4 linked regions of the Homo sapiens genome follow. The main gene of each other region encodes a partner of the protein of the gene in region 2 in a complex. Each region holds a gene or a part of one and is shown on either strand. Other genes may lie near its edges. The genes, in order: DRC5, DRC10, DRC12 and DRC1.

Evidence for each region.
Region 1: DRC10 (region 2) and DRC5 share a complex: the UniProt entries of both Homo sapiens proteins name them as parts of the nexin-dynein regulatory complex.
Region 3: DRC10 (region 2) and DRC12 share a complex: the UniProt entries of both Homo sapiens proteins name them as parts of the nexin-dynein regulatory complex.
Region 4: DRC10 (region 2) and DRC1 share a complex: the UniProt entries of both Homo sapiens proteins name them as parts of the nexin-dynein regulatory complex.

Annotation. Positions count from the first base shown.
Region 1 is NC_000006.12:44,294,098-44,302,192, reverse strand, and holds the start of DRC5 (dynein regulatory complex subunit 5), read left to right. Parts: upstream 1-4,494; 5' UTR 4,495-4,534; exon of another isoform or gene 4,535-5,042; intron 5,043-5,646; exon of another isoform or gene 5,647-5,879; intron 5,880-8,095. Other genes in the region: AARS2 (alanine--tRNA ligase, mitochondrial), read left to right, coding at 23-133, 729-812, 927-1,037, 1,482-1,646. UniProt on the Homo sapiens protein: Component of the nexin-dynein regulatory complex (N-DRC) a key regulator of ciliary/flagellar motility which maintains the alignment and integrity of the distal axoneme and regulates microtubule sliding in motile axonemes.
Region 2 is NC_000012.12:113,203,665-113,211,265, forward strand, and holds part of DRC10 (dynein regulatory complex protein 10), read right to left. Parts: intron 6,465-7,601; exon of another isoform or gene 6,337-6,464; intron 4,846-6,336; exon of another isoform or gene 4,596-4,845; 5' UTR 4,503-4,595; coding exon 3,774-4,502; intron 1-3,773. UniProt on the Homo sapiens protein: Component of the nexin-dynein regulatory complex (N-DRC), a key regulator of ciliary/flagellar motility which maintains the alignment and integrity of the distal axoneme and regulates microtubule sliding in motile axonemes.
Region 3 is NC_000011.10:119,192,683-119,200,649, forward strand, and holds the start of DRC12 (dynein regulatory complex protein 12), read right to left. Parts: upstream 3,160-7,967; 5' UTR 3,117-3,159; intron 2,818-3,116; 5' UTR 2,806-2,817; coding exon 2,742-2,805; intron 2,313-2,741; coding exon 2,241-2,312; intron 1,204-2,240; coding exon 1,084-1,203; intron 562-1,083; coding exon 469-561; intron 1-468. UniProt on the Homo sapiens protein: Component of the nexin-dynein regulatory complex (N-DRC), a key regulator of ciliary/flagellar motility which maintains the alignment and integrity of the distal axoneme and regulates microtubule sliding in motile axonemes.
Region 4 is NC_000002.12:26,446,827-26,454,427, reverse strand, and holds part of DRC1 (dynein regulatory complex protein 1), read right to left. Parts: intron 5,738-7,601; coding exon 5,625-5,737; intron 4,433-5,624; coding exon 4,343-4,432; intron 3,837-4,342; coding exon 3,747-3,836; intron 1,109-3,746; coding exon 879-1,108; intron 1-878. UniProt on the Homo sapiens protein: Component of the nexin-dynein regulatory complex (N-DRC) a key regulator of ciliary/flagellar motility which maintains the alignment and integrity of the distal axoneme and regulates microtubule sliding in motile axonemes.

The sequences.
Region 1 (8,095 bases), on a different chromosome or scaffold from region 2:
GATGTACTGCTTCTGGCCATAGGCTGTGGAAACTGCTGTGATGCCCCAGTGGCAGCGGCGGGAGCTGCTGGCCACAGTGAAGATGCTGCAGCGGCGTGCCAACACTGCCATCCGTAAGCTGCAAATGGGACAGGTGAGAGGAGGTTTGGCTGCACCCATGTGCCCAGAGACACTCCAGCAGATACACTGAGAAGTCTCAAGGGCTGGGGCATGGGGGTGAGTCAGAGGCTGTGCAAGGACGGGGTGGTGGCAGCTTCCTTCTCCTGCCAGCTGAGAACCATCACCCAGGCCATTCCCCCACTTCTGTCTCTTTCAAACTGTGTTTCTCCCCCAACTCCCAAGTCTGGCTCAGAACCCCCGGAAGCCTACTGACTTGATTAGTGCCATTCAGCCCTGATTGCACCTCCACTGTGGATCCCCCTTTCTCCCGCCCACTCCTGGTCCATCTGTGCTCTGACCTTCCTCCTTTCACCTTCAGCGACCTATTTGTAGGGGCCTGAAGCTATGATGAAAGGGAAGTGGTGAGGGAAGTGAGGAAGGACACATGTGGGACCCAAAAAGGAGGCCACCCTAGGCAGAGTCCCTGCCACCTCTGCCTAGAGCTAATGACTTTTGGGGTGGGTGGGGGAAGCAGGGGATTGCTCAGCTGGGGCTTAGTTCAGAAGTTGGGGCTAATTGGAAACCTGCCTCTCAGCCTGACCCCTCTGCTTGTCCTTCCTGCCCCATAGGCTGCAAAGAAAACTCAGGAGCTGCTGGAGCGGCACTCGAAGGGGCCTCTGATTGTGGACACAGTCTCTGCTGAGTCTCTCTCAGTGAGTGCTAGCCAAGCCGGGCTGCCCCAGGGTCTGGGGAGGGCAAAGTCCTGACCAGGAGACAGCTAGGGGTCTGGGAAGCGATGGGCTCACCATCTGTCTTTCGTGGTCCAGGTGCTGGTGAAGGTGGTACGGCAGCTGTGTGAGCAGGCCCCCAGCACGTCTGTGCTCCTACTCAGCCCCCAGCCCATGGGGAAGGTGCTGTGTGCCTGTCAGGTGGCCCAGGTGAGGGAAGTGGGAGAGCAGCCCACCGCCCCCATTAATACCCATCCTGGTCCAGCTCTCTGATTTTACACCTTTAATTCCTCCCAAAGGGGCCAAGGCTGGGTGGAAGTATCTATGAGGATACTCCAGGACAGGGATGGGGAATCTCCTTGTTCCTGAAAACAGCCCCTCCCCACCCCAGAAGGCACCAAGAGATTCCTTAATTCCTAACCCCTCCCAGGCCTCACATCCCTTGTAAACAAGTAGCAGATGTTCACGTTCATACACCTCCCCACACACATTTCCAGCCCAAACCTTCTCCGGCTCATCACCTGACTGCCCCACCATGTGCCCAGCTGGGAAGGGGGCACTGATGACCTTCAGCTCCACTCTTGAGGGTACCTTGAGTGGATGCTGGCAGGGAGGGCCACTCTGCATCGCTTCCTCTTCTGATTCTGTTCCTAGGGTGCCATGCCCACCTTCACAGCAGAGGCCTGGGCACTGGCAGTGTGCAGCCACATGGGGGGCAAGGCGTGGGGCTCACGAGTGGTGGCCCAAGGCACCGGAAGCACTACTGACCTGGAAGCTGCCCTCAGTATAGCCCAAACCTATGCCCTCAGCCAGCTCTGACCCAGGTCCGCCCAGGGACCCACATGGACTAAAGGCAATGCCAGGAGCCCTGAAGGAGCCAGCAGAACCTTCCCACATGCTGAAGCGAGGACTAGAGGCTGGAGGCCAAGCAGCTGAGCCAAAGAAGATCACCTGGGCCAGGGCCTACGTGACACAAGGAGACATGGGCTAGGGAAGGCAGAACTGGGCCCAAAGACACACACCCCCTTGGTGAAAGAGAAGACATGGACAATTATGGCTGTGACTGCACATTAGAAATTATTTCACTGGCCGGGTGTGGTGGTTCACACCTGTAATCCAAGCACTTTGGGAGGCCGAGGCAGGTAGATCATGAGGTCAGGAGATCAAAACCATCCTGGCTAACATGGTGAAACCCCATCTCTACTAAAAATACAAAAAATTAGCCGGGTGTGGTGGCACACGCCTGTAGTCCCAGCTACTCGGGAGGCTGAGGCAGAAGAATCGCTTGAACCTGGGAGGTGGAGGTTGCAGTGGGCCAAGATCGCACCACTGCACTCCAGCCTGGGTGACAGAGCGAGACTCTGTCTCAAATAATTATTTCACAGAGGATAGCAAGCTCCAGAAGGTTCTATTACCTTTAAAAAAGAGTAGTTTTGCCCCTCCCAGCAACCTAAGACCAGTCTGAACTCACACTGTCTGAAAGGCCACCCAGGATCCAAATCGGGCCATCTTCATTGCCATGAGTGTTCGGACAGGCTCTGCGTGCCAGGCAACAGTGGGCAGACAAAGGGCTCCCTGGCTACTGGGAAGATACAGAACCATCCTGTGAAAATCATTTCAGCACTGGAGACCTTCTTTGCTATTACTTCTTTCATTAACAATGACCTCTAATTTAAATTGGGCCCTGCTGGTTTGTTGATGAATTGAGCAACTGAGAACGTGGCGGGCACTAAACTGACAGTTCCTTCCTTCATGGAGCCTGCTTCATGTGGAGGAAACAGGAAATAAAGCAAAAGAAGAGGGTCAGGCTTGGTGGCTCATGCCTATAATCCTGGCATTTTAGGAGGCTGAGGTTGGAGAATCGCTTGAGGCCAGAAGTGCAAGACCAGCCTGCGCAAACAGCAAGACCCTGTCTACAAAAAAAAAAAAAAGTAATCTTTATGCCTCAGCCTCCCAGGTAGCTGAGACTACCCACACCTTGGTCCCAGCTACTTGGGAGGCTGAGGTGGGAAAATCACTTTGCCCAGGAATTCAAGGCCGCAGTGAGCTATGATTGCACCACTGCACTCCAGGCAACAGAGTGAGACCCTGTCTTAAAAAAAAGAAGGGAGAAAGTGTCAGATGGTGATGAGGTCTGGGGGGGAAATAGAGAATGGGGATCAGGAGTGTGGATGGTGATATTCCCTCACCAAGAGGTGACATGTGAGCAGGGAGCTGGGAGGTGAGGGTGTGACCCGTGTGGAAATCAGGGAAAAGCATTCCAGCCTGAGGGAACAGCCAATGCAGAGGCCGTGAGGTGGCCAGTGCCACTGAGCAGTGAGCTGGGATAGGGGCAGGTGAGGAGGCTGGAGAGCGGGGTCAGACAAACAATATGCTTATTAAAACAAGTTGTACAGCACCTGCCTCAAGCCTGAGCTGAAGCTGAAAATTGGCACTTCAAAGCAGGAGGAAGCAGAGATGGAGGAAAGCCCTCCTTCCCTACCAGAATGAGTCCACCTCAGACAGCCAGACTTTGGACCTCTGCCTTTGTTCCTAGATCTCTGTTGCTAGATGAAGGAAAGGGCCTCAGGGGATCCATCTTCAAATCAAGGGCTCCCTGGCTACCAAATTCTGTCTAGTAAAAATTATTCGAGCAGCGTGGGCCCGCCTGGCATCATTTTCTGCAGTTTCTCATTCTAATTAAGGCACTGATGATTTGCTGGTAAGGCACTGCTGAGGGCTTGAAGGGACCCAATCCCGGGTGCCTGGCCCCTCACTGCTTGCAAAGCAGCATCCTGGCCACTGGGGCAGTAGCCTGTTTAGCAGTGCTCACCACAGGCCCAGGTTCAAGCTCCTCCGCGAGCGCCAAGATGAGTTTTGGCACCCCTGATTTATTGATGAGTTAACAGAGCTTCGAGATGTTCATCCAGGGTAACCAACTAGTAGTCCTCGGCAGAGCTGAAGTCAAAGCTACCCTTTGAAAGCCCCGCCACCCTGGCTGCCTCTCCCTTCCTGAAGGCCAATTTCTTTTTTTTTACTAGCCGTCCCTCTGGTCTGTCCCTCTCGCCCTCCAGGAGATCTGGGGCCCCAACCACATCTTGTCGCGCCAGGGCTGGAAGAGAGTTTGGCACAGGGCATGGACTGTGTGAAGGAGCGCTGTGTTGGCCTGGAACCTTCCTGCGTCTGGTACCAGACCTTCAGCTGGGGGAAAGGTGGAAGGTGCCCTCCCTCCCGCAGGGCCTAAGGTCAACAGGAGGCCTCACGGGAGTTCCAGTGACTTCTACAGGTGCCTTGGAGAAGGTGCGTCCACCCTCCTCTTCTTCCACAGACGCTTTTCCTGGACCAGCTCCCTATCCATTGCCACACAAAAGCTACCAAGAGAGCACAAGCACTCCAGACCAGCAGCCCTGCCCGACCCCCGCCTCCCGCAGAAAGCCCACCCGTTCCTAGACACGTCCCACGGAAGCACAGGGCATAGCGCAAGGCCACAGTCCCACTACCCGCAAAGCGGCCGCTTCCACGGAACCGTCCCGAGGCCGGGCCTGGCCACCCTGCGCGCGAGTAAGCCGCGTGCCTGGCGCGCAGCGGCAGCGGCAGCGGAGGAAGCAGCGGCGCGCTCGTCCTCCCGGCCCGGCCCGCTCCTAGCAACGCGGGGCGTCCCCAACGACAAAGACCTGCGCCGGCGCGCGGGACTCTGCGTGAGGCGAGCGCCGGGGCTCCCGGAGCGGGTGAGGCGACCTCCGGGAGTGGGGACACCCAGCCCCGGTCTCCCTTATCGGGGCCCCCTCTGGCCGGCTGGGCCCGGGAGCCCCTCTAGCGTCCTCTGCCCACACCGGCCCGAAGCCCACGGGCGGCCATTGCCTGGGTTGCGTTTTCCGTGGCGGGGAAGCGCCGGTCCGTACCCACGGGAGACCCCACGCCCTCCACGCGAGGACGCCCCGCGCCTCCTCCCCACCACAGTCACTGTCTGCAAACCGTCTGGCCCGGGGCTGGGGATCCGAGTGAGGCGAGGGGAGGGACTGGGAAGAAGAGGGGGAAAGTGGGGCATCCGTAGGGCGTGGAGGAGAGCGGTCCCAAGCCCTGGGGCCCTAGGCTTCTCCGAAAGGCCGTCCGTTCCCATCACCCGAGGGCTGTAATCCCTCCCGCGGGTGCGGAAGCTTCCTCATCTCCCTACCTCCCACTGCACTGCCGGTTTCCCTGGGTTACCAAGGAGAAGCCAGCGCCTCTACACCCCAGGTAGGATGGGGGAGGGACTCCTGGCCTTTGGAGCTGAGCTTCTCTGCTGGGGTGTCTGAGCTGAAGGTAGGGAGGAGGGGTGGGAGACTCCAGAGCCGCTGGAGTCACTTTTGAGACAACAGACCTGAGTGGTCAGGAGTTGGGAGGAGGCCAGCCCAGGGGCTGTGGTAAGTGAACTGGCGGTTTCACCCAGCCCAAGTCCAAGCACACGGGCCGAGGCTCAGTTGGAGAAAGTTTTTTGCCCTTCCACAAGTGGAATTCCCAACTTGGGAGTGACTTACCCCAAAGTAAGACATGGTGGGCATGAAGGATATGGAGGTGGCTGTAGACAAAAGCCCAGAGCCCTGAGAACAGAGGAGGGCTCTCCTGAGGGGATCTGGGGTGGGAGCGGCTGAGAAGGCAGAGAAGGCAGTCAGAGCAGTGGGTGCAAAGCCAGCTCCTGGGGAAGTGTCCCGGGCACAGAGGCGCTGTCTGCCCAAAGAGGGCCGGGTGTCTCCACTTCTCCACTAAGAGGAAGGGAGGAGGGGACAGTTGAGGACCAGAACTGTGATGCACAAGAAGGTGAGAATGCAAACCTACAGCATCTTCCTCGTGTTCCCATTAGGGCAGGTGGAAGGAGCTCCTACCCAGAATGGTTAGATTTAGCTGGGGACCTGAGGAAGGATGGAGAAGACCTGAGACTTCCTGTGGAGGGAATATGCCAGGGGCAGGAGAGCACCACTCTGCAGCACTCTGTTGGGCTCCTTGCACCCTCCAAAGGATGCAGGCAGTGGTCCAGCCTTGCGGAAGTCTCCTATACCCAGCAGTGAACTGGAAGAGGGAGCCTGGACTATTTAGGTCAGCACCAAGGGTATAACCCTGGGCTCCATATTGGTGAACAAGAGAGCTCATGAGCTGGAGAAAGTGGGAGACCCACTGGAAAAGTGCTATGAATGACTGAGTTGGGAGCAATTTATAAGCAACCCCAGCATCTCATGGAAGTAAGAGCATTAGACAGACACAAACTAAAACCTCAGCTTCTCCACTTACTAGCTAGTGACATTTAGTAAGTTACTTAAGCTTTCTAAGTTTCAGTTTCCTCATTTGTGAAATGGGGACAATAGTGTTAAATAATAATCCTCAATAATTAATTTGAGATTTTAATAAAATTATGTAGTAAGGTATCTAGCATCTTCACTACAATATCTAACACACATCTTGAGTGCTGGCTCTGGGCCCAGCACTATATGAAATGTCTCACACACATTAGCTCCTTAATCTTCTGAGTAATCCTATGAAATAGATACTATTAAGTACTGTCCCCACGTTATAGATGAAGAAACTGAGGCAAGTGGGGACCTGCCCAAGGTTGCACAGATAGTGGGGGGCACCGTGGAGATTTGACTTGAGGCAGCAGCACAACTCCTGAGTACTTAGCCAGCTGCTGTCCTGCCTCCTGCTATGTACATGTTATTGAAGGCCTAGAGCTCTCAATAAATCATAGCTATATATAGCCAAGGGTATGGTTCCCAGAACACCTGTCCACCAGATTCAAGCCATCAGAAATGAGGACAACCCTGGCCAAACTGGAACATCTTGTCACTTTCTATTACCTGTGCTTGGGCATGGAAAGAGCAGTCCACACCCAATCCTTTGAGTTAATGTCCTGGTATAGACGTTGTTCCCTGTGTGTGATTTCAGGACCCTGGACCCTGGTCCTGAGGATGCAGAGTAGGGGCCCAGGGGAGGAGGATTGGCCTTTCCCTGGGGACTGTGGTCCCAGGTTAGAGACACAACCATGTGAAGCCAAACAAGCTGGTGAGGCAGGCCCCAGAGAAGTGAAAGTCCACTGCACGTGTCCCCACTCTCCCACTTTCCCCCTCTGAGAGCGCAGCACATCCTTGGATGGAGACACCAGGTGGTGGCACAAGACGTACCCACTCCTGGTGGCCCTGACCTCTCTGGAATGTCAGGATTCCTGCCCTGCCCATGTTCAAGACTGGAGTCTTGAACATGCTCCTAGTCTTCAAACTCTGGCATTCTCTGACTGGCCCAACAGGTTCCCAGGGAAAGAAAGCTCCGGAGAGGAAGGTGACCCTTCAGCCACCTCCAGGACTGCCCTCTGTGGGTCCTTGGGGACTGTCCATGTGCCCGGGGCCCCCAGCTATTGGGTATCCACCCATCCCTGCAGGCTCCCAGGGAAGATAGTGCCACCTACTTGCACCCTCAGCTGCAGGCTGATGACTGCCAGGCCAGACTAAGACCAATCTGTGAAACAGGCAGAGCTCTCTCAGACTCCTGTCTTCTCCTTTACCCACTCCCCACCTCCTCTCCTTTCTGTGGTTATTCTCCTTGCCTCCTTTCTTTTTCTTTCTTTCTTTTTTTTTTTTTTTTTTTTTGAGACAGAGTTTTGCTCTCATTGCCCAGGCTGGAGTGTAGTGGCGCAATCTCAGCTCACTGCAACCTCTGCCTCCTGGGTTCAACCTTCATTTTTTTCCCCTAATTATCTTATAAACCACCTCTTTCAGCCTCTCAAGTAGCTGGGATTACAGGCATGTGCCACCATGCCTGGCTAATTTTTGTATTTTTAGTAGAGACGGGGTTTCACCATGTTGATCAGGCTGGTCTTGAACTCTTGACCTCAGGTAATCCACCCTCCTCGACCTCCCAAAGTGCTAAGACTACAGGCATGAGCCACCATATCCCGCCTCCCTTGCCCCTTTTCTAACTTTGCTTTTTGTATCTGAAACTCATTCACACTAAGGTGTGGAATACATATATCCTGATATCTTATATGTAGTCATGTGTATTATATATGTAATTTCTGCACACTTAAACTGTCAGAAACAATATATTACAACTTCTACTTTTTAAAAAGTTTGCTACATTAGGCTGGGTGCAGTGGCTCACGCCTGTAATCTCAGCGCTTTGGGAGGCCAAGGCGGGCAGATCACCTGAGGTCGAGAGTTCAAGACCAGCCTGACCAATATGGAGAAACCCCGTCTCTACTAAAAATACAAAATTAGCCAGCCGTGGTGGTGCATGCCTGTAATCCCAGCTATTCGGGAGGCTGA
Region 2 (7,601 bases):
GGGGTTTCACCATGTTGGTCAGGCTGGTCTCGAACTCCTGACCTTAGGTGATCTGCCTGCCTCAGCCTCCCAAAGTGCTGGGATTACAGGCATGAGCCACTGTGCCCAGCTAATTTTTTTTTTTTTTTTTTTTTTTTTGTAGAGATGGGGTTTCACCCTGTTGCCCAGGCTGGTCTTGAACTCTTGACCTCAAGTGATCCATCTGCCTTGGCTTCCCAAAGTGCTGGGATTATAGGTGTGAGCCACTACTTCCAGCCAGACACCCCATCTCTAAAAAAAGAAAAAAAATTAATTAGGCAGGCATGGTGGCATGTGCCTGTAGTCACAGCTACTTGGGAGGCTGAGGCAGGGAGATTGCTTGAGCCCAGGAGTTCGAAACCAGCCTGGGCAACATAGCGAGACCCTGTCTCTACAAAAATGTAAAAAATTAGCCAAGAGTGGTGGCGCATGCCTGTAGTTTCAGCTACTCAAAAGGCTAAGGCAGGAGAATCGCCCAGGAGGTCAAGGCCGCAGTGAGCTATGAACGTGCCAATGCACTCAAGCCTGGGTGACAGAGCAAGATCTTGTCTCTAAAACTAAAAACTTCTAGAAACCAAATTCCTTGATTAGGCCTCAAAGGCCCTGTGTGATCTGTCTCCTTCCCCTGCTTTCCCAGCCCATCTTTGTCCCTTCCCTCTAGCTCACTGGCATTCTCTGGGTTTCTGAACTAGCCAGGCTTATTCTTGTCTCATTACTGAGGTGCACTCTACCCTCCACCTGGAACAGGGGTTGGCAAACTATGGCCCACAGGCCGAATCCAGCCAGCCACTTGTATTTGTAAGTAAAGTTTTGTTGGAACACAGCCCATTCATTTACATATTGTTTGTGGCTGCTTTTCCCCTATAACAGCAAAGCTGAGTTGAGTAATTGCAACAGACCATCTGGCCCACAAAGCCTAATGTTTTTACTATCTGGCCCTTTGTAGAAAAAGTTGGGGCCAGGTGCGGTGGCTCACACATGTAATTCCAGCACTTTGGGAGGCTGAGGTGGGAGGTGGGAGGATCACTTGAGACCAGGAATTCAAGAACAGCCTGGCCAAAATGGCAAAACTCTGTCTCTACTAAAAGATACAAAAATTAGCCAGGCGTGGTGGCACATGCCTGTAATCCCAGCTACTCAGGAGGCTGAGGCACAAGAATCACTTGAACCTGGGAGGTGAAGGCTGCAGTAAGCTGAGATCATGCCATTATACTCCAGCTTGGGCATAGAGTAAGACTGTCTCAAAAAAAAAAAAATAGTTCGCTGATCCCTAGCTTGGAAGGTTCTTCCTCACTGCACTTGCCTGGTTCACGCCCTCGCATTCTTCATATCTTGGCTTCAATGTCCCTGACCTTTTGGTGTTAAGTTCTCCTGTAACACTCCCTTTGAGAAGTACATTGTACTTCTCAAAACTGTAATTAAATGAATTCTTTAATTCCTACCTTCCTTACTGTGAACTCCATGAGGCTGGAACCACATGGGCTTATTTATAAGACCTGGCACCTAGTAAGTACTTACAATAATTTGTGGAGTAAATGAATTTTTTTTTAAAAAAAAAAAGCTACTTAGGCCAGGCGCAGTGGCTCACGCCTATAATCCCAGCACTTTGGGAGGCCAAGGCGGGCAGATCACTTAGGGTCAGGAGTTCAAGACCAGCCTGGCCAACACGGTGAAACCCCATCTCTACTAAAAATAAAAAAATTAGCTGGGCATTGTGGCGGGCACCTGTAGTCCCAGAGACTCGGGAGGCTGAGCCAGAAGAATTGCTTGAACCCAGGATGTAGAAAATGAAATAGAGGTTCCTCTTCAAAGGGACTTTCCTCCCAGTCTAATTCAGAATAGGTAGTAACCTCTCTTAGAACCAAAATTTACTCGAAGACCTGTGTTAATATTCTTCAATTCTGCTAGCTGTAATAAAGAAATCAGGCCGGGCGCGGTGGCTCATGCCAGTAATCCCAGCACTTTGGGAGGCCGAGGCGGGTGGATCATGAGGTCAGGAGATCGAGACCATCCTGGCTAACAAGGTGAAACCCCGTCTCTACTAAAAATACAAAAAATTAGCCGGGCGCGGTGGCGGGCGCCTGTAGTCCCAGCTACTCGGGAGGCTGAGGCAGGAGAATGGCGTGAACCCGGGAAGCGGAGCTTGCAGTGAGCCGAGATTGCGCCACTGCAGTCCGCAGTCCGGCTTCCGGCCTGGGCGACAGAGCGAGACTCCGTCTCAAAAAAAAAAAAAAAAAAAAAAGAAATCAATAGGCCGGGCGTGGTGACTCACGCCTGTAATCCCAGCACTTTGGGGGGCAGAGGTGGGCGGATCACGAGGTCAGGAGATCGAGACTATCCTGGCTAACACGGTGAAACCCCATCTCTACTAAAAATACAAAAAAAAAATTAGCTGGGTATGGTGGTGGGCACCTGTAGTCCCAGCTACTCGGGAGGCTGAGGCAGGAGAATGGTGTGACCCTGGAGGCGGAGCTTGCAGTGAGCTGATATCACACCACTGCACTCCAGCCTGGGTGACAGAGCAAGACTCCGCCTCAAAAAAAAAAAAAAAAAAGAAATCAATATACTCTGTTCTTAGCTCCCACATTTTAGCTTAGATATTTGCCTTGGCATACCTGAACCGGTCCAAGCAAGCATTAGGTCATAGCCTATTCCTCTTCCTTATTTGGAGGTGTTTTTGCCTCTCTCAGCATTCCAGGAGTTACTTGCTCTCTTCCTTTGTTTCCCTCTGCCTTTGCCTCTTTTGGGAAGTTCTAAATTGCTAGCCAATCGGGTTGAGTACAGAATGTGAGGTCCTGTTCCAGCCAATGGAAACTGGACACAGCAGTAGGGTGGATGCGTCAGGTTATAAATGACCCCGTCTCTTTTGTTCATGTGTGCTCTTGTGGCAAGACTGCTAGCAAGCAGCACCCTTTCTGCAGAGAGTAAACTAGCCTTGCTGAGAGATCCTTTGTCTCAGTGTTGATTTTGGCGACACCGAGCACCCATTCCCAACACAGGAGGCGGAGGTTGCAGTGAATCAAGATGTTGCCACTGCACTTTAGCCTGGGTGACACAGCAAGACTCCATCTTAAAAAAAAAAAAATCACTGGGGAGGCCGGGCATAGTGGCTCATGCCTGTAACCCCAGCACTTTGGGAGGCCAAGGCGGAAGGATCTCTTGAACCCAGAAGTTCGAGACCAACCTGGGCAACGTAGCAAGAGCCCATCTTTACAAACAATCAAAAAATTAGCCAGGCATGGTGACACACACCTGTAGTCTCAGCTACTTGGGAGGGTGAGATGGGAGGATTGCTTAAGCCTGAGAGATGGAGGCTGCAGTGTGCTGTGATCATGCCACTGCACTCTAGCCTGGGCAACAGAGTGAGACCCTGTCTCAAAAAAATCAGTCAATCAATTGGCCAGGCGCAGTGGCCAGCACTTTGGGAGGCCAAAGCAGGAGGATCACTTGAGGTCAGGAGTTCTAGACCAGCCTGGCCAACATGGCGAAAACCTGTCTCTACTAAAAATACAAAAATTAGCCGGGCGTGGTGGCATACGCCTGTAATCCCAACTACTTGGGAGGCTGTGGTGGGAGAATCGCTTGAACCTGGGAGGCAGAGGTTGCAGTGAGTCGAGATTACACCACTGCACTCTAGTCTGGACAACAGAGCGAGACTCCATCTTAAAAAAAAAATCAATCATTGAGGAAAAACCCAACCAACAAAAGATTTGTGTGGCTTCTTCAGTAATTTCAGCAATACTATGAAACAATACCTCTGCATTCCTGTTCTTCATTCTCTCCGCCAATTCCTTTTCAAGAGTATCAATGATTTGTTGGTTATTACTATTCTGTCTACTGATATCCTGTAAGAACTGGGCCTTATCCCTCGCTTCCATGGGACTAGTGAGTAGTTTTTCAAACAGGAAACCACGGAGCTCTATCAGGCTGTCAATAAAATTCTGGGCTTCTGCACTTCTACCCTGTGTCTGCATCTGCAGGAGCCTAGCAGCCTGGGGGTTGCTGAGCAAGAGTCTAAGGACGTTCTTGGTGGAGTCTTTGATCTGCTGCATAAGTGGTGAGAGGCTGGATTTCTGCAGCTCTATGGAAAGGAGGCGGTCTCTGAGCCACCCTTCCTCCTCAGCCTCTTTCTGCTCCTGCAATTGCCTTTCTTTCTCTTTCAGGCACCTGACGTTTTCAAGGAGGACCTGGCAGAGATCCTCATGCTCTCTCACTGCCCTCATGACGTCCTCCCCCAGCATCCCCTCCATATCCTCTCTGTTGGATGCCACATACGACAGCAAGGTCACCAGCTCCACCTTGTAGATCGCCTCATCCAGGATGGACATGATCCTTTTGGCCTCAATGGTGGTGAGTTTGGTCCTAGAGAGAACCAAGGGTTTTAGTGGATCAGCTGGCCTTTTAGATGGGTCTGTCTTTGGCCCTATTCTGTTGATGGCAGGGGCCTGATACAAAGGGGCCATGGCGAGAATGTCTAAAGCCATCTTGTGAGCAGCCCTCTGTGCCTCTGTAGGTCCACAGAGATGGAGACTTCGGTAGACTACTTGGGTCTCGTGCTTTTATTGTCTCTGGCCATCCTGCAAAATGAAGAAGTAGGTGTGAGTGCAGCTGTGCTGACATCTGTGTGGTTAGTGTGGCTGCAGAAACCACAACTGTTGACATCAAGAGTTCATCTTAGGTCCTCTGTCGCTTTTACACAGAACCTTTCACTGGAAGCAGTTTTCAGCTTTGTGAGGGTGTTAGGGCCACAAGGGCAGGAAGACCAAGTGTGGAGGCATCTCAGGCACATGTGTCAGGCGGGGACCAGCCAGGCATACAGACAGCATTCTAAGGATTTAAAACCAGAGACTGGTTACATCAGTGATGGGAGAGTTGAGAGGCCAACCAGGGGAAGACAAAGCCATCCCGCAATTGTCAATGGCAGGAAGCCACCACATGAAGAGATGGTGAGCCTGGGGCCCAGGGTCACCCAGGGGAAGTTTGAACCACAGCCATCAGTTCCCAGAGGAGCTAGAGACATTGCCGGAAATGCAGATTAAAGAAGGGTGGCGGTGGGGGAGGAGAAATACCCTGGTTTCTTTCTACTGCCCTTGGCCAAAACCAGCAGGAAACCAACTGACAAGCAGCCTGGGCGACGGAACCACAGGCCTCAGCCTATGTCTGAGCAGGACAGGGACAGGGCAGAATGCAGTGTAAGACTAACAGGACTAGGAATGGCACATTTTCACTGATTTTAAAGTTTTTTGGTTTGTTTGTTTATTTGTTTTGAGACAGAGTCTTGCTCTGTCGCCCAGGCTGCAGTGCAGTGCCATGATCTCGGCTCACTGCAACCTCTGCCTCCTGGGTTCAAGTGATTCTCCTGCCTCAGCCTCCTGAGCAGCTGGGACTACAGGTGCACACCACCACGCCTGGCTAATCTTTGTATTTTTAGTAGAGACAGGGTTTTGCCATGTTTGCCAGGCTGTTCTCAATCCACCTGCCTTTGCCTCCCAAAGTGCTGGGATTACAGGCCTGAGCCACCACGCCTGGCCATTTTTAAGTACTGATTTTAAAAATTGGTGGGTGAAATATAACTTTGAAATACAATTTAAAAAACTGTTTCACTAAATGTAATGTTGTATTCTGGATTGGGTTCTGGAGTGGAAAAAGGACATTAGTGGAACTGGAGAAATCCAAATCCAAATCCAAATCTAGTCTAAAGTTTAGTTAATAGCATTGTACCAACATTAATTTTGTAGGCGCTCTGTTACCCTGGCTGGAGTGCAATAGTGTGACCATGGCTCACTCCAGCCTCGACCTACTGGGCTCAAGTGATCCTCCTGTCTCAGCCTCTCAAGTAGCTAGGACTATAGGTGCTCGATGCCTAGCTAATTTTTTAACTTTTTATAGAGATGAGCTCCACTATGTTGCCCAGACTGATCTTGAACTCCTAGGCTCAAGCAATCCTCCCACCTTAGCCTCCCAGTGCTGGGAATACAGACAGGAGCCACCGTGCCGGGCCTAATTTTGTGGTTTTGACAAACACATCAAGGTTATCTAAGATGTTAACATTAGGGGGAGCAGAATGGAGGGCATACGGGAACTCTCTGTACTATCTTTGCAACTTTTCTATAAATCTACAATTATTACAAAGTAAAAAGTTTAGTTAAAAGACTATTTCAGGCCAGGCATGGTAGCTCACACCTGTAATCACAGCACTGTGGGAGGCCGAGGGAGGTGGATCATCTGAGGTCAGGAGTTCAAGACAAGCCTGGCCAACATGGCGAAACCCCGTCTCTAATAAAAATACGAGAGAATGCCAGGCATGGTGGTACGCACCTGTTACTCAGGTTAACCCCAGTTACTCAGGAGGCTGAGGCATGAGAATCTCTTGAACCTAGGAGGCGGAGGTTGCAGTAAGCCAAGTTTGCATCACTGTACTCCGGCCTGGGCAACAGAATGAGACTCTGTTTCAAAAGATAGATAGACAAATAAATAACTGTTTCAGAAAAATCTATAGGGCAATCAGAGATCAGTAATTTATATTGCTTTCATAGTACAATGGCTAAAAGTACTAGCTTTGCACAGCCCCACTTGGGTTCAAATCCTTGCTGGGGGTCTCTGGGCTGGTCATTTAATCCTCCAGAGCTTGGGCTTCCTCAGCTGTAAAACAAGAGTCCTCAGGATGAATGAGAAGCCTGCACGCTGTAAAAAATGTTCAATAAATAACTAATAGCACTAACCCAGGAAAACGAAAATCCCAAGTCCAGGACTTTAATGATTTCTGATGCAATTGCTGAACGAACACCTACTGCCTTGGCCAAGCACAGGGGCTCACGCCTGTAATCCTAGCACTTTGGGAGGTTGAAGTGGGAGGATCGCTTGAGCCCAGGAGTTCAAGACCAGCCCAGGCAACATAGCAAGTCCCCATCTCTTAAAAAAGAAAAAAAGAAAAAAAAAAAAAAAAGAACACCTACTGCCCAGGATGTCTGCTCACCCCCCAACACCATGTCTCAGATGGACACCCCCCATAACATCCCCATCCCTCACCCTGATTCTTCTTCATCTCTTCCCCCTTATCCTGTTCGTTCTCCAGGTTAAGTATCACCATCTGACATCCCTATATGCACCTGTTTATTTGTTTATTGTCTGTCTTTCCCCCTCTCCTAAGAAGTAAGCACCAATGAAAGCTGTAAGTTACTACTTACAGGTTACCTGTGCCACTTTTATTTTCATATTGTCTGTAGATGTGAGAAATGTTTTGAAGAAAGAATCATTAGGACTTGAGTGAAAGAGTTTTGAGTTTGGGTGACTGGTAGAGAAAGATGGGGCCCTTAAGAAACTATGGCAGAAATTGGGAGAGGAGAGGACATTTGGAGGGGAGGACAATGAGCTCACTTTTAAACTCATTGAGCTCTAGCTGCCATACTGCAGTGGACAATGGTGTCTTGGCCTTCCCATTATCCAGGGAGTGCAGTGGCACGATCATGGCTCACTGCAACCTCGACTTCCTGGGCTCAAACAGTCCTCCTGCCTCATGCTCCCGAGTAGCTGATACTACAGGCACGTGCCACCATTCCCAGCTAATTATTGTATTTTTATTT
Region 3 (7,967 bases), on a different chromosome or scaffold from region 2:
GTTGCCCAGGCTGGAGTGCAATGGCGTGATCTCGGCTCACTGCAACCTCTGCCTCCTGGGTTCAAGCGATTCTCCTGCTTCAGCCTCCCGAGTAGCTGGGATTACAGGTGTGCGCCACCACATCCGGCTAATTTTTATATTTTTAGTAGAGACGGGGTTTTGCCATTTGGCCAGGCTGTTCCTGGACTCCTGACCTCAGGTGATCCGCCCGCCTTGGCCTCCCAAAGTGCTGGGATTACAGGCCTGAGCCACCGCGCCTGGAGCCTCTTCTTTACTTACAGCAGAGATTTTTGGTATCCCGAACCCTCTGCTGCAGTCCTCAGTGGTGGAGGGTCAGCGAAAGTGGGGAAAGTGATCCAAGAGCCCAGACGGCAGCTTTCTGGAGCAGAGACTTTGAAGTCTACCCCTTCATGCTGGCCCTTGCTGCAACTCTTGGAGAGAAGGGGCTTGGAGGGTGGGGAAACCTACCTAGCTGCCCCCGAAGGCCTTTGACTTCTTCCTCCAGCTGCTTGCTGCGGGTTTGCATATCCTCCTGCAGGGCATGGCACTGGCGACTCATCTCTGGGGTGGGGGCAGTGGGCCACCAGGGACCCAGGTTGGAGATGGAGGGATGGAGAAAGGAAATGAAGTTGTGGGTGGGGAAGACTCTACTTGGTCTAGTGGAACAGGAGCACAAAGGCCTTCTTGGTTCTTTTTGTGATTCTGAGAAGCTGCAGACCATGAAAACCTGAGGAAGGGACAGGAAGCCCGACCTACCTCCCCCAGTCCAGCTTTGGATGGGGATGCTAGCCCTTCTCCCCGCCCATGGGCTGATTGAGATGATGGCTATGACTGCATGTGTATCCTACACAGCATCAAGCACATGGCACCAGGCATCCTGGAAGGCCCCTGCCTGGGATCCCAGGAACCTACCTGCCTTTGGTTCCTGCAGGATCCTTCCTGATTTGTACTGTTTGGGAAAGACCAAGACCAGGCCTGGCAGTCGGAAGCCCTCCTTGTTTCCCTTCCTTGCATCAACTGACCCTGTTGGTTGTCCTCCTCCAAGCCCCTGTCTCCTGCCCACCTGCTTAACCGACCACACACCTGCATATATGGCCTTCCCTTCACTTCGGGCCCCTTCCAGCTCAGCCTCCACCCCTTGCAGCCTCTGCCTCAGCTGGTCTTCGGAAGCCTTGGCTCGACGGGCTTCATCCCTCCGTAGAGCTGTGAGCAGTCCCAGAGCCGCCGTCAGGACTGGCTGGGTCCCACTAAATCAGCCCCCATGAACGTGATGGACTTTGCCCACCTCTAGAAATCTGGTGGTGGGGTGTCCAGCCTCTTACTCTCTCTCTGGGTTTTGTTGTTTTTGTTTTTTATCCCTAGAGTCTCACAGGCTCCTCATTATTAAGAAGTAAAAACTCCCTCTATGTTCTTTTCGGATAGCCTGGCATGGTGGCTCATGCCTGTAATCCCAATATTTTGGGAGGCTTAGGTGGGAGAATTGCTTGAGGCCAGGAGTTTGAGACCTGCCTGGGCAACAGAGTGAGACCTTGTCTCTATAAAATAAATAGGGCCAGGCGCGGTGGCTCACGCCTGTAATCCCAGCACTTCGGGAGGCCAAGGCTGGTGGGACACAAGGTCAAGAGTTCGAGACCAGCCTGGCCAACATGGTGAAAACCCGTCTCTACTAAGAATACAAAAATTAGCCAGGTGTGGTGGCCACGTGCCTGTAATCCCAGCTACTCGGGAGGCTGAGGCAGGAGAATCGCTTGAACCTGGGAGGCAGAGGTTGCAGTGAGCCGAGATCACACCACTGCACTCCAGCCTGGGCGACAGAGCACAAGACTCTGTCTCAAAAAAAAAAAAAAAAAAAAAAAAAAAAAATAAATAAATAAAGTAGCCAGGCATGGTGGTGTGCACCTGTAATACCAGCTACTCGGGAGGCTGAGGCGGGAAGATTGTTGCGGCCCAGGAGTTAGAGATTACAGTGGACTATGACCATACCACTGCACTCCAGCCCGGGCAATAGAGCAAAATTCTGTCAAAAAAACCAAAAAAAACAAAAAACAAACAAACAAAAAAAACACCTTCCTTTATCAACTCTCACTGCCCACCCTCTCTCATCATCTTTTTCCACTAGGGGATGGTTAGGGTCAACTTAACCCCCCACCATACCTCCAACTCTCCAATCCCCCAGGATACAGAAATGCCCCATTTCACTTCCCCTGTTGCCCACCCATGCCAGCTTCTACCCTCCTTACCCAAGTGGTCTCGGAGCAGCTCCTTCTCCAGCACCACCAGCCTGTGCCTGGACTCGGCCACCACATCTGCACCTGCGGTGGCAAGTGGCAGAGCCTCAGCTCTTCATGATCTCAGCATTCCTCACTCTGCTCACATCCTCACCCCACACCCTGCACTTTTGCCACAGCAGACCTGAGGACCACTAAATGAGGTATCCACAGTGGCAGAGTCTACTGAAGTCAGCACCGTGTCCTCACCGACCAGCACATAACAGATATGCAAAATACACATGACAAATATATTAGGAAGGCACAGAGCTAGATGGGGCTTAAAGGAGAGCGTGGGTGACCATTTCCCCACTTCCTCAGCTCCCTGGATCTGGCTGTGAGGACATGAAAGAGGTAGGTCAAGAGAGCTCCATCCTGTCCTGCAGAAGGCTGAATTCTCTCTGGAGGAGCTCTGCGTGGTCTTCATGGCAGAACATGGAGAAGCAGGGGGCACCTCCACCCACCATGACTCACCCCAGTTCTTTTTCTTCTTCTGTGCCCCAGATTTCTTCCCTTTTTCTTTGTTTTTAGGTGGCATCTCCTTGCTGTCCTGGGAGAAGGAGGGGACCTTATGTTTAGGTCTGGACACAGGGATGCTTTCCTGAGCTTTAGACTGAACCAGGAGACTCTCCTGAGTCCAAATTTGTCTCTCATATCCTTCAGAAAAGTCAGTTCACAGTCTCTTTGGAACCTCAGACAGGGTTGGGGTCAGTGGGGAGGATGGAGTTTTTTCTCTCAACCAGGCTGACTCTGTACAGAAGTCATTCCTTGCAACTCTCTTTTAGAGAAACGAAATCCCTGTACCTGCTCCCCTCCCTCTTCCCATCATCCTCAACCCTCACTTCCTACCTGTAGGATCCTCTCCTGCCAGCGTTGGGGCTCCCCGTGGAGTGACCCACTCGTGGGGAGTGGCAGAGAGAAGGCCCAACTAGCGAGGAGCCTGAGGCGGGGCCTGGGTCCTGGGAGCCAATCCTTGGTGGCAAATTTCTCTTGAGGGCAGGACTGAGGGCTGGAAGGTTGGGTTTCCAGAGGCTGTATGTTGTCCAGGCAACTGGGAAACATGGAGTTCACAGGAAGGTGGAATGGGCTAAATCAGCTCACAAAGTTTAAAATATCAAGGTCTCAAAGGGTCAGTTCTTTCCTTATCCCAAAATCCTAAGTATAGTTTGAAAAGAAAGGGCTTTGGAGGTCGATTAGTTATGATTCATTGCCATGTAGACATGGCCTGCAATTTGGAGACTTCCAAATTCAGATGTACACATCTGAGATAATATGTGGTGCTGATACAGAGGAAAAGGACTGACAGTAGCCATGTTGGACAACTGACATCCCGAGGTCCCACCAGCAAAATGACATTAGTAGGCTTAAAACTGAAGATCTAAGCTGGGGCGGTGGCTCGTGCCTATAATCCCAGCATTTTGAGAAGCTGAGGCAGGAGGATTACTTGAGGCCAGGAGTTCGAGACCAGCCTGGACAACACAGTGAGACCTCATTTCTACAAAAAAATTAAAAAATTAGCCTGGTGTGGTGGTGCACACCTGTAGTCTCAGCTACTTGGGAGGCTGAAGCAGGAGAATCACTTGAGCCTGGGAGGTTGAGGCAGCAGTGAGCTATGATTGCACCACTGCACTCCAGCCTGGATGACAGAGGGAGACCCTGTCTCAAACAAACAAAACTCCCAGACCACCGAAGATCCTCTTCAGTACACTGTAGAATGAGGGTAATAAGTGCAGGAATAGGTAGTCCAGGGAGTTTCCCACTTCAGAGAAATGAGACGCAGAGGAATAGTGGACCCATGGACTCTAGGGTACTGACCTAGAGGGATGCAAGTGTGGAGGAAAGAGCTCAGGTTAGAGACAAGACATGTGAGTTTGAGTCCCAACTGTGGATATGTAAACTGAGGCGAGCCATTTGACTTTGCTCAGCATCAGTTTCCTGATCTTTAATTGTTTGATTTTGCAGCTCTTGAAAAGCCTGTGTTTTAGCTGCGTGTTTACATGGCTATCTTCTCTCCTAGTGACTTAATCTATTGCTACATTTCCCCATTCCCTTGTGTGGTTGATTTTCAGACAGGTGTTGAGACATTGCTTTGTGAGGCTCCCTGTAGCATAGAGTTGGTTGGGGCTCCCTCTAGTGGACTTGTTTGACCTTCTCCTGAGTTTCCTACATTTTTGCTTTTAAATTATTTACTGGGCAACAGTGGGGGTGACTCCCTTTGGGGATACTTCTTAGCGTCCTGTTTGAGCCAGGAGTGGCTGGAAGAATTAACATTGGGGAGAGAGTATGATGGGTGGCCCTCCCTTGTCAGGCAGCCCTCACTTTCCCTCCAGCTCTGTGCTATCCTGGAGGCTTGCCATTTATCTGCCACTTGGATCTCTGGGCACCATACTGGTTAGAGTGAAAATAGCAAAAACTTCAGGACTTTTCTCCTTTTGGATTAGGGGACCTGCAGACCCTTTCTTTTCTTTAGGTTTCTTTTTTTTTTTCCCGTGTCTCTCTCTGTCACCTAGGCTGGAGTGCGGTGGCATGATCACGGCTCACTACAGCCTCAGTCTCCCTGGGCTCTGGTGATCTTCCCACCTCAACTTCCTGAGTAGCTGGGACTACAGGCGCATGCCACCACACCTGGCCAATTTTTGTATTTTTTGTAGAGATGGGGTTTTACCATGTTGTCCAGCATGGTCTCAAACTCCTGGCCTCAAGCGATCCACCTGCCTTGGCCTCCCAAGGTTCTTGGATTACAGGCGTGAGCCACTGCACCAGCCTATCTTTTTTTTTTTTTTTCTTCAGACAGAGTCTCGCTCTTGTTGCCCAGGCTGGAGTACAGTGACGTGATCTCGGCTCACTGCAACCTCCACCTCCCAGGTTCAAGCAATTCTCTGCCTCAGCCTCCCAAGTAGCTGGGAATACAGGTGCCCACCACCACGCCTGGCTAATTTTTGTATTTTTAGTAGAGATGGGGGTTCACCATCTTGGCCAGGCTGGTCTTGAACTCCTGACCTCGTGATCCACCCGCCTTAGCCTCCCAAAGTGCTGGGATTACAGGCGCGAGCCACTGTGCCCGGCCTTCTTTAGGTACTTCTCTTCATCTCTGTCACCCTCAATATTTTTGGTCCATTGCCTATTGTCAGGAGCAGATCTGTAGAAATAGCCACAAGAGGCTGGGCGCGGTGACTCACGTCTGTAATCCCAGCACTTTGGGAGGCTGAGGCAGGCAGATCATGAGGTCAGGAGTTCGAGACCAGCCTGGCCAACATTATTAAACCCTGTCTCTACTAAAAAATACAAAAATTAGCTGGGCATGGTGGCACGTGCCTATAATCCCAGCTACTGGGGAGGCTGAGGCAGCAGAATCGCTTGAACCCAGGAGGAGGAGGTTGCAGTAAACAGAGATTGCGCCACTGCACTTCAGCCTGGGCAGCAGAGCAAGACTCCATCTCAAAAAAAAAAAAAAAAGCCACAAGATCTGGAATTGAAAAGTCCTTCTTCTGGGTAGTGGGTAACTTTAGGCAGAGGCTGGTTCATGCTTGTCACCTTGGTGGCTGCACGGCACTTACATGAACTTCCGGGCATTTTACAGAGCAAAGAGAAGAGCCAGTCTTGACTTCCCAAGTGCTTCCAGCTCCTGTAACTCAGAGTCAACTAATCTTGTGGACATCTCCCAAATCTGGAGGATATTTTTCTTCTAATCTTTTATTTATTTATTTTTGAAGCCAGTGGAATTTAGTAGTGGGCGCCTGTATACCAACTTTAGTGACTATAAACCAAAAATAAAATTCTAAGCCTGCCAGCCATCTGAGTGGACCCCTCCTCTAGGCCAAGGGCTTTCCAAAGTGAACCTGAAGAACTAGTTCAGGCCGTGATGGGAAGGGGGAGCCGGACATGCCTCAACATACCCTCCTCCCTTTTAGAATTACTGATAGAACACACTCTTTAAATCTGATAAGAAACATTTACAGGCCTGGTGGCTCATGCCTGTAATTTCAGCACTTTGGGAGGCTGAGGCGGGCAGATCATTTGAGGCCAGAAGGTTGAGACCAGCCTGGGCAATGTGGTGAAACCCCATCTACACAAAAAATACAAAAGTTAGCCCAGTTTGGTGGTGTGCATATGTAGTCCCAGCTACTTGGGAGGCGGAGGTGGGAGGATCACCTGAGCCTGGGAAGGTTGAGGTTGCAGTGAGCCATGATCACGTGACTGCACTCCAGTCTGGGAAATGCAGTGGCACCCTGTCTCAAAAAATAAAAAGAGAAAAGATAAGAAGAAAAAACATTTACAATCAATTCTCTCTGAGGCCTGCTACCTGGACGCTTCATCTACATGATAAAACCTTGGTCTCTTGCCGGGCACGGTGGCTCACTCCTGTAATCCCAACACTTTGGGAGGCCAAGGCAGGTGGATTCACCTGAGGTCAGGAGTTTGAGACCAGCCTGCCCAACGTGGCGAAACCCTGTCTCTACTAAAAATACAAAAAATTAGCCGGGTGTGGAGGCGGGTGCCTGTAATCCCAGCTACTTTGGAGGCTGAGGCAGGAGAATCGCTTGAACCCGGGAGGTGGAGGTTGTGGTGAGCCGAGATTGCGCCACTGCACTCCAGCCTGGGCAACAAGAGCAAAACTCTGTCAAAAAAACAAAAACAAAAACAAAAAACCCTTGGTCTCTGCAACCCCTTATTGTAACCCAGACATTCCTTTCTATTGATTCCAGGTCTTTAGATAATAACTCTTTCAAGCAATTGTCAATTGGAAAATCTTTGAATCCACGTATGACCTGGAACCCTAACTCTAACCCTAATTCTCTTGCCCGCTTCTTCGCTTCCAGTTGTCCTGCCTTTCTAGACTGAACCAATGTACATCTTACATATATTGATTGATGTCTTATGTTTTCTTAAAATTTATATATAAAGCAAGCCGGTGCAGTGGCTCACGCCTGTCATCCCAGCACTTTGGGAGGCCAAGGCAGGTGGATCACCTGAGGTCAGGAGTTCAAGACCAGCCTAGCCAACATGGTGAAACCCTGTCTCTACTAAAAATGCAAAAAATTAGCCAAGCATTGTGGTGGGCGCCCATAATCCCAGCTACTTGGAAGGCTGAGGCAGTAGAATCTCTTGAACCCGGGAGGCGGAGGTTGCAGTGAGCCGAGATCGCGCCATTGCACTCCAGCCTGGGCAACAAGAGTGAAATTCCGTCTGAAAAAAAAATGTATAAAGCCAAATTGTAGCTTGTTCACCTTCGGCACTTGTTCTCAGGATGTCTTGAGAGTTGTGTCACGGGCCATTGGTCACTCATATTTGGCTCAGAATAAATCTCTTCAAATATTTTACAGAGTTTGACTCTTTTCTTTGACATGACACTAATGTTAATAAGTTCTGATAACCCAGTACCATCAGACCAGCTTCTTCTAATCTTGAGCATGTTTTTCATTTATTCTCCCTCCACCACCTCCTTCTCCTGTGCTGTAATGCAGTGGGGGTACCTGTCCCTGTCCTCCTCATCTAGAAGCCTGTTTGGGAGGTTTTTCTTTCTTTCTTTTTTTTCTTTTTGAGACAGAGTCTCGCTCTGTGGCCCAGGCTGGAGTGCAGTGGCGCGATCTCGGCTTACTGCAGCCTCAATCTCCTTGGCTCAGGTGATCCTCCCACCTCAGCATGGTGGGACTACAGACGCACACACTGCTCCCAGCTGGGAGTACAGTAGCTGGGACT
Region 4 (7,601 bases), on a different chromosome or scaffold from region 2:
ATCCACCCCTCTCTCTCCCAATCAGTTTACCTCACTGGCTTTACAGCTCATCACTGTGCCCATCTCTTGCACCAACACATCCAAAACAGCACTTGAATTCAGTCATGTCCTCTCCATCCCCTCATGACAGCCTTAATCTGGGGGATCCTCACCTCCCACCTGGACAAGCCTCCTGATGCTTTCCCTGTATCCAGCTTCGCCCCTTCCCTGACGCCACAATGATCTCTCTAAAACGCAAGGCTAATCATGGCTCTTCGGCTGCTTCAAATCCTTTTCTGGCTCCCACCCACCAACGGGTAAAGACAAAGATCTTGGGCACATTGGGCAAGGCTCTCCAAGACCTGGCTAGCTCCCCACCCACCAGTGCCACCTCCCAGGCCCTTGACACTCCAGCCAGACCTCCTGTGATGATTCTTGAACAGACCAGACCTTCCCCATGCTGTCATTTCCTGAAATGCCCTTACCTCCATTTTATCTGCCTGGGAACACCTAGTTCCAGTGCCATTTCCTCCCAAAACCCTCTGACATGCCAAATGGAAACGGCCACTTCCTCCTCTGAACAATGGTGCACCTTGAATGTGCTTTGACCATTACTCTGATCACAAGGCAGTGCCCCCACAGTGCTTACACATGGCAGCCTTCAGTGCATGTCTGCTGAATGAATGATGAGTGAAAAAAGCACAGATCACCACTATGCCCTATTGCTTTCCTGACTGTCCAGCGATTGGTTGCCCCAGCCCGCCTTCAGATAGCCCTGTCCTTAGTCCCCGCATCTTGCCCAGCAGACTCTTCTCCACTCACTGGCTCTGCCTGGCTCCCCAGCCCATCCAGCTCCCCTGGTTCTGGTCTCAGGCAAGCCTTCCAGCCCCGCAGCCCACCTAGGCTTCTTCAGACCCATGACGAAGGCCTCCAGAATCTTGAGGACATCATTGGGGTGGATGACCCAGGGGGAGGGTGGGGTCTCCTCCTCTTCCTCCTTCTCCCCTTCCACCAGGCTTTCTTCCTTTTCTCCCTCCATCTCCGTCTGCTCTGCCAGCTCCAATTCTGACCTCGTGCTTGTCTCCTCCATGCTCGCCTTCTCCATGCTCGCCTGACTGCAGGGCTTGATCTGGAGAAAGATGCACGGACAACTGTGGGCTGGGGACACACGAGCATGAGCATGGAGAGAGAGGCAGGAAGAAGAAAAACCAGAAAAGTTTACAGAAAGTGACAGCTTGCCCAGGGAGACATTTACACAGGGACAGAAACAGGAGAAAGAGTGGGAAGAAGGGGGATGGGATGGGGAGAGGCACTAGGAGGCTACGAGAAAATGGAAAGGTTCTGTTTCTAAATCCGGGCTCCTAGGTGCTCACCTTACTGACATTCATAAAGCTTACATGTTAGAAATCTTCTTTTGAATCATAATACAGATTAAATTTTTGCTTTAATTGTTAAATTTAAAAGGTCTTCCTCCTACTCCTATTTTGCAGTTCATGCAATTGACCTCCCACAGGCAAACGAATGCTATCAAGTTTCCTATGGTTCCTTCCAAGGAAATAGTATGTCTATATAATGTTTATATATAAATACATGCGCATACCTTTCCATATATACTCCTCCTTCTCGTTTTGACATCAATGATACTATACTACAAATAGAGTTCTGTAGTTTGCTTTTACACTTACCAATAAACCTTAGGTACCTTTTCATGTGAATACATAAAGAACTTTGGTTTTTTCCCACAGTTTTATAGTACCCCATCGTGTAGACATACCATATATTATTAAATAGATTCCTCAACAATGGACATATAGGTTGTTTCGAATCTTCTGCCATTTCAAACAATGTACAGTGAATCAGCTACAATAAATACACCATTTCAACTGTAATGAGATATATTTAGAGAATAAAATCCTAGAAGAAGAATTTCAGAGGCCAAGGTGGGCAGATCATTTGAGGTCAGGAGTTCGAGAGCAGCCTGGCCAACATGGTGAAACCACATCTCTACTAAAAATACAAAAATTAGCCGGGCGTGGTGGCAGGTGCCTGTAATCAATCCCAGCTACTCAGGAGGCTGAGGCAGGAGAATGGCTTGAACCTGGGAGATGGAGGTTGTAGTGAGCCGAGATCGTGCCACTGCACTCCAGCCTGGGCAACAGAGTGAGACTCTGTCTCAAAAAAAAGAAGAAGAATTTCAGAGTAAAATGTATATAGTTTTGTAATTGATACTGCCAAACTGTCCTCAATGGAGGTTACAATTTATACTCCTACCAGTAACTTATGAGTGTGCCTGTTTTCTACACCTCAGTCATCGCTATGTTATACTTGCTGTGTTATCAAGCTTTTTTTTTTTTTGCGCCAACATAACAGGTTGGCAAAATGGAAATCAGCCATTTTAATTTGCATTTCTCTTATTACAAGGAAGGCTGATTGTCTTTTCATATGTTTAAGAGTTACCTGTATTGCCTCTTCTAGGAGTTGTTCATTCATATTTGTTATCTGTTCCTTTTGTTGGTCTTTTTCTTATTGATTTCAGAGAGCTCTTTATATATTAAGGAAATGCCTTAACTATGATATGAGTTGAAAATATTTCTCTGCAGCTTGTCATTCATCTCTTAACTTTGCTTATCATGATTTTTGCACTACAGAATTGTTTTTAAATTCTGTAGTCAAATATAGCTTTTATTCCCTTTATGGCTTTGTGGTTTTGTCCATTTCTGCCAGCTCTTTTTTTCTTTTCTCTTTTTTTTCCCTTAGAGACAGTGTCTCACACTCTGTCACCCAGGCTGAAATGCAGTGGTGAAATCATGGCTCACTGCAGCCTCAACCTCATCATGGCTCACTGCAGCCTCAACCTTCTGGGCTAAACTGAGCCTCCCAAGTAGCTGGAACTATAGGCATGAGCCACTGTGCCTAGCCCAGCCAACTCTTTTTACAGGCATGTCAGGATACTCAGCTTTGGGCTAGCAGTACTAAAAACATTTTTCATTCACATTTTTCATTTTTAAATTAAAATGTTATATGACTTTTAATATGGCATCTTCTTTAAAATAGTTAATATTTGATTCACCTTCTGAAATCAATTACAATCAAGATATGTAGGACAAATGGGCCTTGCCTTGCGGGAAAGTGTTAAGGATCAAAATATTCAGAACCTGGTGGGCTCTGGTCTCACAGTGGCTGAGACCTGGTTTTGAGGGAGGGTGCAGGAAAAGATTGCTTGGGCCTCAGTATAAGAACAGCATCTCACCCCCAAGCCATTCTTCCCTTTACAAAGAGACAAATTGATAAACAATAAGGGAAATGCTAAGTTAGCTATACCTGACATAAAAGCCCCGCTATTTCTCCAGAAGTGCTACTCAAAGACAGCACTGTGCTCTGGGGGCTTCGGGACAATTGAAAATGCAGGGACATGGATGAAGCTGGAAACCATCATTCCCAGCAAACGATCACAAGATCAGAAAACCAAACACCGCATGTTCTCACTCATAAATGGGAGTTGAACAATGAGAACACATGGACACAGGGAGGGAAACATAACACACCGGGGCCTGTCGGGGGGTGGGGGCTAGGGGAGGGATAACATTAGGAGAAATACCTAATGTAGGTGATGGGTTGATGGGTGCAGCAAACCACCAGAGCACATGTATACCTATGTAACAAACCTGCATGTTCTGCACATGTAACCCAGAACTTAAAGTATAATAAAATAAATAAATAAATAAGAAAGAAAGAAAATGCTTTCTTCTCTCTGCACCTTGCCTTACCTGGAGGCTGGAAGATAAACGGTGAGCTCGATATTTAAGGAAGAAGTTCACCAGTTTATACAAGTCATCCTCACTTTCAATTCCAAGGGCCTGGGGCGAAAAACAGGATGGTTGCTCAAACACCCCATCAAGAGGCCACGGGCTTGGGCAGCTGACAGATGCTCAGCTCCTAAGAGCGGGAGGCTTGGCTTGTGGAGGGCATTCATCCAACGCTGGGAAGCGACTGTGAACTTGGGGACACACACATCAGAACACACGGAAACAATGCTCATAGAGCCAGGAGCTGCTCCATATGGATCCCATGGCTGTGAGGATGCCTAGTGGGGCTGCACCAGATTTGAGTTTGGGGGTGTCAGGGAGAACCTACAACCTGAGAGGAAGATGCTAGTAGAGGAAGAGGCAGGGGTGGGAGACACTGCAGTGAGTCTGAGACCAATGTGTTGTGTGGAGAGTAGGTTAAGGGAAGGATGTGACAGGGAGCAGGGGAAGCCCCGGGAGACCCTCGTCCACTGCCAGGGTTGAGGCAATGGCAGGGCCATCTGAGAACACGGCCGGCTGCAGCCCCACCCGTGTCCTCCCAGCCCCGTTGGACTCACGGAGAAGATGGCATCCAGCCTCAGCAGATAGCATTCATTCTGCTCCAGGGGCAGGAGAAGGCTCAGCAGCTTGCTCTCTATGAGGAACCCCTGGGGAGAAGGAAGAAGGCATCTCCTGTCGGGGACAGGTTTCAGGAGCGAGTCCCAGGGTCTGCAGCTGCCCCCTGTGTAACACTCCAGGGACCATGCCACGGAGCAGACGCCCAGGGATGGGAGCCAGCAGTGGGCCCCAGCAAAGCCTTCTTGGGGTGCCCATGAACGCCCCCCTCCCCAGGGAGCAAGGCCAGAGACAAGCAAGGCCAGGGACAAAGCCCATCCTCACCACAGACTTAGCTTTTCCCACCCAGAAGGGCACCAACCCACCTCACCCACAAGCCACTAGGCAAACTCCTGAGGCCCCCACCACAGTCCAAAGCTGACCCAGTCACAGGCTCCTGCTTCACCCATAGTCTTGTCCCCAAATATCTACAGAACACAGCAGCAGGACAGGGAGGCATGGAAAGCAGTGGGCACCCCAAACCAAAACACAGCACACATGCGGTGGAAGGGAGAGGGCGGCTGAGCAGATGCGGTGCCCGCTCTGAGCTGGGATGCCTGGGGGAGAGCTCCATGGGGAGGTGGCCTCTGCATCCAGCTGCAGGTTCAGAGGGCAGAACCTGCCACCTGACCCCTTCAGCAGCAGCTGCCCTCAGTGGCAAGAGCCAGCCAAAGGCAACTGCCCTCACTATCCTAAAAGAATACCCACTTCAGAACCGTAAGATCCAAACAAACACTGCCCATGTTTGACCACAACCCAACCTCCAGCTGAACCAGCTCAATGCAGCTTTTATTCTAAGGCTAATCATGTTTGCTAACATACAATGCAGACATCCAAATCCCAACATAGCCAGAGTCACCCCCAAAACAAGCCCCTGAGAAGGGCCATGTCAGTGTGGCCACATCACTTAGCAAGTTGGTTCATGGAGGTGAGCTGGTGCAACTTCTGTCTCAGAAGCAGCATCATTTTAAGCTGGCAGGAGCCCTCCAGCTGGCCTAAACTATGCCATGCTGGCCAACCAAGGTTAGACCCATTTTCCAGCTGGGCCAGCTCAGAGGCAAGGCCTCTATGAACCGGCCCTGAAGTCCAGGGGCCATCCTGACTCTGCTCCTCAGGGCCCAACCCTGGGCTTGGCCAGGGGAGGACTGGCCCACTCCTGACTCCAGGCTAGCACTGGCCCAGCAGAGGCCTCAGAACCTGCACACCCCCGTGAGTCCCTCTGCTGCAGCCCCCGCCTGGCCTCACCGACTCGTCACACAGGAGCATCAGGATCCTCTTGGTAGTTTTTTCAGAAATTTGCTTCGGCAAATCCAGGTAGGACTCTGGTTCCGCGGCGGCCTCTTCTGCCTCCTCCTCTTCTGCAGTTGGGTCATGGGGAGGAGAGAGAAAGAAAAAGAAGATAATTTCTGGAGCTAGTTGACTCTGAGAAACAGTCAGATGGCTTTCCTTGAGAAAATGTACCTCTTAAAAAGCCTCTGTGAGGCATTCTCTCAGTCTCTTTATGATGAAAAAAGCCTATTACGTGGCGGGAAGGCGGGCTAGGGGGTCGGAATCAGAGACTACCTGGAGAACTCGGCCATTCCCAGCCAGCCTGTAATGCCCTACTTTTCCAAATTGCGTCTACCTGGAAACATCATACTCAAAATCCAGCCATGAACCAGGAAGTGGGAGGGAGAGTGTGAGCCCATTTATTCTTATTTCAGAGATGATCTAGCAAGTGGCTATATAGTCTCTAAACCTGCAACAGATTAGACAGAAGCAGCCAACTCAAAGCAGGGGCAGGTGGCTTTGCACATTCACAGATAATTTTTTTTTTTTTTTTTTGAGATGGAGTCTTGCTCTGTCACCCAGGCTGGAGTGCAGTGGTGTGATCTCAGCTCACTGCAACCTCCGCCTCCTGGGTTCAAGTGATTCTCCTCCCTCAGCCTCCCAAGTAGCTGGGATTACAGACACCCACCGCGACACCTGGCTAATTTCTGTGTTTTTCGTAGAGATGGGGTTTTGCCACATTGGCCAGGCTGGTCTCGAACTCCTGAACTCAAGTGATCTGCCTGCCTCGGCCTCCCAAAGTGCTGAGATTACAGGCATGAGCCACGGCGCCTGGTCCAGAGAAATATTAACAGCAAGAACTGACAGCTGACAGCAAGAGCCAAAAATTTTCTTAATTAAAATTAACTTCTTAGGCCAGGCGTGGTGGCTCATGCCTGTAATCCCAGCACTTTGGGAGGCTGAGGCAGGTGGATCACTTGAGGTCAGGAGTTTGAGACCAGCCTGGCCAACATGGCAAAACCCCGTCTCTACTAAAAATACAAAAATTAGCTGGGCATGGTGGCACGCACCTGTAATCCCAGCTACTCAGGAGGCTGAGGCAGGAGAATCGCTTGAACCCAGGAGGTGGAGGTTGCAGTGAGCCAAGACTGCACCACTGCACTCCAGCCTGGGCAACAGAGTGAGACTGTCTCAAAAAGACAAAAATAAAACAAACGAACAAAAAACATAATTAAATTGTAAAAAACCATTCCCTAATAATCAAAAGCAAAACGAAACAAAAATACCTATATGTGTATCAAGCTGGTGATATAACCACACAGAAACTATTCCAAGTGCATTTATTTTTATTTATTTGTTTATTTATTGAGACAGAGTCTCGCTCTGTCACCCAGGCTGCAGTGCAGTGGCATAATCTCGGCTGACTGCAACCTCCACCTCCCGGGTTCAAGTGATTCTCCTGCCTCAGCCTCCTGAGTAGCTGGAATTACAGCCGCGCGCCACCATGCCCGGCTAATTTTTGTATTTTTAGTAGAGACAGGGTTTCACCATGTTGGTCAGGCTGGTCTCAAACTCCTGACCTCATGATCCGCCCATCTTGGCCTCCCAAAGTGCTGGGATGACAGGCATGAGCCACCGCACCCGGCCTATTTTTATTTTTTTTTTAATTTTTATTATTTTTTATTTTTTTGAGAAAGAGGCTCACTCTGTTGCTCATCCTGGAGTGCAGTGGTGCAATCTTGGCTCACTACAACCTCCACCTCCCGGGTTCAAGCGATTCTCCTGCCTCAGCCTCCTGAGTAGCTGGGATTACAGGCGCACGCCATGACCGGCTAATTTTTTGTATTTTTAGTAGAGACAGGTTTTCGCCATGTTGGCCAGGCTGGTCTCGAATTCCTGACCTCAGGTGATCTGCGCGCCTTGGCCTCCCAAAGTGCTGGGATTACAGGGGTG